2 linked regions of the Homo sapiens genome follow. The protein of the gene in region 1 purifies or fractionates together with the protein of each later gene. This does not show direct contact. Each region holds a gene or a part of one and is shown in the gene's direction. Other genes may lie near its edges.

Region 1 (2,744 bases):
GGTAAGCGGACGGTGCCCGACAACCAGTGCTTCATCCAGTTCCTGTCCAACCCAGCAGTGACCTTTGGCACAGCCATTGCTGCCTTCTACCTGCCTGTGGTCATCATGACGGTGCTGTACATCCACATCTCCCTGGCCAGTCGCAGCCGAGTCCACAAGCACCGGCCCGAGGGCCCGAAGGAGAAGAAAGCCAAGACGCTGGCCTTCCTCAAGAGCCCACTAATGAAGCAGAGCGTCAAGAAGCCCCCGCCCGGGGAGGCCGCCCGGGAGGAGCTGCGCAATGGCAAGCTGGAGGAGGCCCCCCCGCCAGCGCTGCCACCGCCACCGCGCCCCGTGGCTGATAAGGACACTTCCAATGAGTCCAGCTCAGGCAGTGCCACCCAGAACACCAAGGAACGCCCAGCCACAGAGCTGTCCACCACAGAGGCCACCACGCCCGCCATGCCCGCCCCTCCCCTGCAGCCGCGGGCCCTCAACCCAGCCTCCAGATGGTCCAAGATCCAGATTGTGACGAAGCAGACAGGCAATGAGTGTGTGACAGCCATTGAGATTGTGCCTGCCACGCCGGCTGGCATGCGCCCTGCGGCCAACGTGGCCCGCAAGTTCGCCAGCATCGCTCGCAACCAGGTGCGCAAGAAGCGGCAGATGGCGGCCCGGGAGCGCAAAGTGACACGAACGATCTTTGCCATTCTGCTAGCCTTCATCCTCACCTGGACGCCCTACAACGTCATGGTCCTGGTGAACACCTTCTGCCAGAGCTGCATCCCTGACACGGTGTGGTCCATTGGCTACTGGCTCTGCTACGTCAACAGCACCATCAACCCTGCCTGCTATGCTCTGTGCAACGCCACCTTTAAAAAGACCTTCCGGCACCTGCTGCTGTGCCAGTATCGGAACATCGGCACTGCCAGGTAGGCAGGCAGGAGTGCCCTAGGAGGTGCTGGTGTTGCGTGCGTGTGCTGGGGGGACCACACGGCTCACTTGCTGTGGGGAAGAGTTGCAGGCACCATTCTGCGTTCACGTTTGCTGAGGAGGAAGTTCAGAAGAGGCTCTGTGGCTGCATTCAGAGACCAGATCTCTGCTCAGGCTGAGGAGGCTCACCCCAGGGAGTGTCTGAACTGGGGCTGCCTGGCCCACCTCTGTGGCCCTGCTTCAGCGAGCTGCGGGGCACTGGCCTGGGTGGGCACCTGCCCCACTGTGACCAACCATCAGCAGTGCTGGAAGAATGGACATCTGGATGGGGGCCGAAGCCCAGGGCCCCCTCAGGAAGAACAAAGGGGCCAGTGCTTGGAAAAGGAGGCTTGGGAAGGGAGTAGAAGGGTGGGGTCCCCCATTCTGCTGTAATCGGTGCTTTCTGCCCCCTTGCACCCCGCATGTAGGCTCAGCCCCCTCTCCCCAAATCCCACTCCAGGGGCAGAAATCTCCTCTGGCTGCAGCTACTTAGCCAGGTTCTGGGTGGGTATGATGGAGGCCAGGTCCCCCCCGCCCCAGCAGCACTGCCCTTGTCACATTAAGATGGGGCAGCTGGGAGGTCAGAGGTTCTGTCTCAGGAACTGAGGTCTGGCCTTCTGCGATCCCAGGCTGAGCCGTGAGTGGTCCACGTATTCAGAAGACAGCCCCCTGCAGCCCCGGCCTTAGAAGGCTGTCCCAGGTCACACATCGAGTCAGGGTGAGGCTGTGGTGGATGGCATTCCCATCTGCCCTCTTCAAACCTCTCACCCCCTGGCTTCTGCAGGGTGGAGGCCTGGGTCACACAGGCAAGAGGAAAGGGGTCAACCTGGTGGCTCACTCGGGTTTCCATGACAGTGGGAAGGGGGGAGGTGGGCAGTGAGGTAGGCACGCAGCCCTCGCATCTGCTCTCCCCCATGGGTAGAACCTTCCTGATTGGCTGTGGGTTGTATCAAAAGACCTTTGACTGGGTGAGGCTGAGATGGGTGTGGTGGTTCCAGTGAGTCAGCCAGGTTCCCTTCCCCAGCCCTGGTCCCTGAGGGAGATGAGGACCGAAAGGCTTAGGTGACTTGATGGGGAGCACCCTTTCAGGGGCCCTGGAAGAAATGTTTGTAATTGTTCTGCTTTTTCCATGAGCTCTGGAGAGCACCCACCACCAAGCCCCCTGAAACCCACCAGTCCCTACAGCCTGGTCTTTCTCCCCACCTTCCCACTCCCAAACACATTTCCACAGCAAACTCCTTGGGAAGGGGCTTTTATATATTAAAAAAGAAGAGCTTTTATTGGGGGGAAAAAGTCAGTTTATTTGATGTGTTTCTTAGTAATGGAATTGTGGGGAAGAACAAAAGCGGGCTCTGGGACTCACATTGCTTTGGGGGAGGCTCAAGCTTCCCAGAATCCCTTGTCCCTCCCCACTTTGGGCACTTAGGGGTGGGGCTGGGGAGTGAGAGGGACAAGGCAGGGCATGATTGATTAAAGCTAACGAGCAGACAGAAGGCACTGGTGGGTCACATCTCGGGCCTGGGAGAGGGAGGGCGTGGGCCAGGCCCCATGTGACACCAGGGGCTCCTTGGCATCCAGGCTTGGCGTCTAGTCCTTTCCCTTCCCTTTCTTGGCTGTAAAACAAGAAAGAAATATTAATACCATATCAGCAGTTAGGCTGACCCATTGCAGACCGCCGGCTCCACAAACACCCGGGCATCAGGGAAGGAGAAGATTCTGCCCCCTAGTGGTTTCCAATCAGCTGACTCGGAAGCAGGGGATGGGGCAGCCATTGTGATGTGGACATGGGACAT
Region 2 (4,191 bases), on another chromosome or scaffold:
TCTATAAAATCCAATTAGTCAGTATTTACTAAGCATTTACCATGTGCCTAAGACTACAATAAATTACACATAATTGAAAAAAATTAAGGATAAGATATAATTTCTACCCCCAAGAACCCTATAATCTCTTGTGAGGGCTATGAATACAATCTAAAATAAAGTATCAAATTCTACAATGCGGACTATGTAAGTGCACTAAGTAACCACGGAAAGGGAAGAGCTAATGGGTTACAGTCCTTGGCAAGAAATTCATGGAAGTAGGGTTGGAGTGGGGTGGGGGGAGCAGGGGACCTTGACATACATAAAGGATATTTAAAAGGGAAAATAACTGGGAGTTGGGAGCAATCCAAAGATGCCACTCTAGAAATATTCTGGTAGGAGGAACCTCTAAAATCAATTCAACTTTACTGAATGGCTACTAGTACTGTGTTAGATGTTGAGGTAGAGAAAAGAACAAGATAATCTCTGATACCGAAGAATTGAAAGTGTCCTGATGGAAAACTAGGAGAGCAAAACAAACAAAAACAGTTATTACAAAGCAGTGTGACAAATGCTGTAACAAAGGAATGACCAGGGAGTTCTGGAGCACTGGGAGAACTTTTAGTAGCATGGCAGGGTCTTCTGTGTGAGTGATTTTCTGGAACTTAGATCCCGTCCGCCCCAGTCTACCTATCCTCGGACAGGGGAGGGGACTGGCATCTAAGTCATTCATTCTGCGTGATGAGGAAGTGAGTGGGAGCTGGGAGCTAACACTTGCACTGATGCCTGAAGGGTTGAGTAGGTATTTGCCAGAGTGATTGGAGAGCGGATGGCAACTTTGACAGAAGAAATAGCAAATACAGAGATACTGAGGCATAAGGGGCTGACAAGTTAAGGAATTTTGTGACGCTTTCCTGTCTTCTTTCCCATCACCTTCACCTAGGGTTGCCGGATAAAATACAAGCTGCCCACTTAAATCTGAATCTCTGATTACCAACTAGTAATTTAAAAATATAAGTATGCCTCCAATATTGCATGGAACATACACACTCAGCCCCCTTCAACTCATCCTGTCCTGTCCGGGGCCCACAAATCCCCGGTGAATACCGGCGAGCTAGTGGAGTAAAGCATGAGAAGGCTTATCTTCCTTTCACTCCTACATTTTTCACTCTCGGATCTCCAGCCCAGGACTGAAGGATGTAGCGCGCAGCCCGCAGCTCGCTGCTCGTCGGAGGGTTTTCCTCTGAGGACTGGAAATGGGGCGCGGGAAGAGGGCGGGGGGCGGCGGGCTGTCACTTACAAAGAAATCTCACTCCACTCCATAAAATCCTCAAGCCAGTGCCGGATTTCCCGGCAAGCGGACGTCTCCCCTCCCACGGACCGGAAATCCCGCCTCCGCTGGAAGAAGAAGCGGAAGCGAGACCGTCCATCCAGAGGAAGGCAAGTTTTTGGCTCGGGCGGCTGAGAAGACCGCGCGGGGCTGGAGACAGGTAGCAGTACGGGGGCGGGGCTTCATGCCGGATGTGATAGTCTGCAGTCGTTTCGGTTGGCAGCCTGGCGGGTGGGAGATGCGGCGGCCACCTGCTGCAAAGAACCGAAGGGAAGGTTAGAAGTACGAAGGCAGTTTGGAGCTGGGGCTAAGCAGCTGTCGCACGGTCAGATCATGGGCTCCACCAAGCACTGGGGCGAATGGCTCCTGAACTTGAAGGTGGCTCCAGCCGGCGTCTTTGGTGTGGCCTTTCTAGCCAGAGTCGCCCTGGTTTTCTATGGCGTCTTCCAGGACCGGACCCTGCACGTGAGGTATACGGACATCGACTACCAGGTCTTCACCGACGCCGCGCGCTTCGTCACGGAGGGGCGCTCGCCTTACCTGAGAGCCACGTACCGTTACACCCCGCTGCTGGGTTGGCTCCTCACTCCCAACATCTACCTCAGCGAGCTCTTTGGAAAGTTTCTCTTCATCAGCTGCGACCTCCTCACCGCTTTCCTCTTATACCGCCTGCTGCTGCTGAAGGGGCTGGGGCGCCGCCAGGCTTGTGGCTACTGTGTCTTTTGGCTTCTTAACCCCCTGCCTATGGCAGTATCCAGCCGCGGTAATGCGGACTCTATTGTCGCCTCCCTGGTCCTGATGGTCCTCTACTTGATAAAGAAAAGACTCGTCGCGTGTGCAGCTGTATTCTATGGTTTCGCGGTGCATATGAAGATATATCCAGTGACTTACATCCTTCCCATAACCCTCCACCTGCTTCCAGATCGCGACAATGACAAAAGCCTCCGTCAATTCCGGTACACTTTCCAGGCTTGTTTGTACGAGCTCCTGAAAAGGCTGTGTAATCGGGCTGTGCTGCTGTTTGTAGCAGTTGCTGGACTCACGTTTTTTGCCCTGAGCTTTGGTTTTTACTATGAGTACGGCTGGGAATTTTTGGAACACACCTACTTTTATCACCTGACTAGGCGGGATATCCGTCACAACTTTTCTCCGTACTTCTACATGCTGTATTTGACTGCAGAGAGCAAGTGGAGTTTTTCCCTGGGAATTGCTGCATTCCTGCCACAGCTCATCTTGCTTTCAGCTGTGTCTTTCGCCTATTACAGAGACCTCGTTTTTTGTTGTTTTCTTCATACGTCCATTTTTGTGACTTTTAACAAAGTCTGCACCTCCCAGTACTTTCTTTGGTACCTCTGCTTACTGCCTCTTGTGATGCCACTAGTCAGAATGCCTTGGAAAAGAGCTGTAGTTCTCCTAATGTTATGGTTTATAGGGCAGGCCATGTGGCTGGCTCCTGCCTATGTTCTAGAGTTTCAAGGAAAGAACACCTTTCTGTTTATTTGGTTAGCTGGTTTGTTCTTTCTTCTTATCAATTGTTCCATCCTGATTCAAATTATTTCCCATTACAAAGAAGAACCCCTGACAGAGAGAATCAAATATGACTAGTGTATGTTCCACACCCTCTGCTACTGTGTTACATTCTGATTGTCTTGTATGGACCAGAAGAGAGCTTTGGGACATTTTTTCTGAACATTCTAAGCATTCTAGTGAAAGTTCCCATGTTCCAACAGAACTTAAAAGCAATGTTTGCCTTATATATAAAAGGGACACAATAATTGAGGTCCACCTTCTAGGAAATCCTAGGACTCGTTTATTTGGGACATGGTGGGAATAAAGGTCACATATTGGAAAATGGAAAGGCTGATGAAACTATCAGATACTAAAACATTCTTAAAATAGAGGAATATAGTTAGAGACATCAGGTTTAAGCCAGTATTTGTTCCTGTTTTACAATGCTTCTGTCTTAAGCTGTGTCTTAACTTTTAACACCCATCTTTTCTTTCTAAAGCTTTCCTGACAGCTGTGAAAATCCAAAAAATATTCTTAAACTGTGTATGGTGGCCCTTGCCTGTAGTCTCAGCACTTTGGGAGGCTGAGGTGGGAGGGTCGCTTGAGTTCAGGAGTTCTAGACCCACCTGGGGCAAGATGGTGAGACCTAGTCTCAAAAAAAAAAAAAAAAATTAGCCAGGTGTTGTGGTGCACCCCTGTAGTCATAGCTGCATGGGAGGCTGAGGTGGGAGAATTGCTTGAGCCCAGAGCAAGACCCTGTCTCAAAAAAAAAAAAAAAAAAAAAAAGGAAAGGACAACTTTTTAGATAGAAAAGTATTAAATAATACTAAGATGCTTAGTAGTATTATTTTAGAGAGTTTTAAACTTCTATATTAAATGTGGGGTCTTACAAGATAATCCAAAGACTTTGGGAGGCCAAGGCGGGCAGATCACGAGGTCAGGAGATTGAGACCATCCTGGCTAACACGGTGAAACCCCTCTCTACTAAAAATACAAAAAATTAGCCGGGCGTGGTGGGTGCCTGTAGTCCCAGCTACTCCTCGGGAGGCTGAGGCAGGAGAATGGCGTGAACTCCGGAGGTGGAGCCTGTAGTGAGCCGAGATGGCACCACTGCGCTCCAGCCTGGGCGACAGAGCAAGACTCCATATCAAAAAAAAAAAAAAAAAAAGATAATCCAAAGAATTTAAATTGTAATCATGTTTCATGTATTTGTTTTATTACTTACTTTTATAGCACTTAGTCCCAGTGGTATTAGACTGCTATTTGGTTTCATACAAAAAGGATTAAATTTAAATTCATTCATGTTTAGACTTGAGTTATTACATTTTTAAAACTATCATCTTGCCTTTAATGTTTGTGGTCCTACACAAACT

Evidence for each region. The genes of interacting proteins can lie anywhere in the genome.
Region 2: the proteins of CHRM4 (region 1) and PIGM purify together in Homo sapiens (affinity purification with mass spectrometry; 2 studies listed by BioGRID and IntAct, with this or other methods). This does not show direct contact.

The regions. Positions count from the first base shown.
Region 1 is NC_000011.10:46,383,289-46,386,032, reverse strand, and holds the end of CHRM4 (muscarinic acetylcholine receptor M4), read left to right. Parts: coding exon 1-915; 3' UTR 916-2,244; downstream 2,245-2,744. Other genes in the region: MDK (midkine isoform a precursor), read right to left, coding at 2,539-2,564. UniProt on the Homo sapiens protein: The muscarinic acetylcholine receptor mediates various cellular responses, including inhibition of adenylate cyclase, breakdown of phosphoinositides and modulation of potassium channels through the action of G proteins.
Region 2 is NC_000001.11:160,029,191-160,033,381, reverse strand, and holds the start of PIGM (GPI alpha-1,4-mannosyltransferase I, catalytic subunit), read left to right. Parts: upstream 1-1,391; 5' UTR 1,392-1,642; coding exon 1,643-2,914; 3' UTR 2,915-4,191.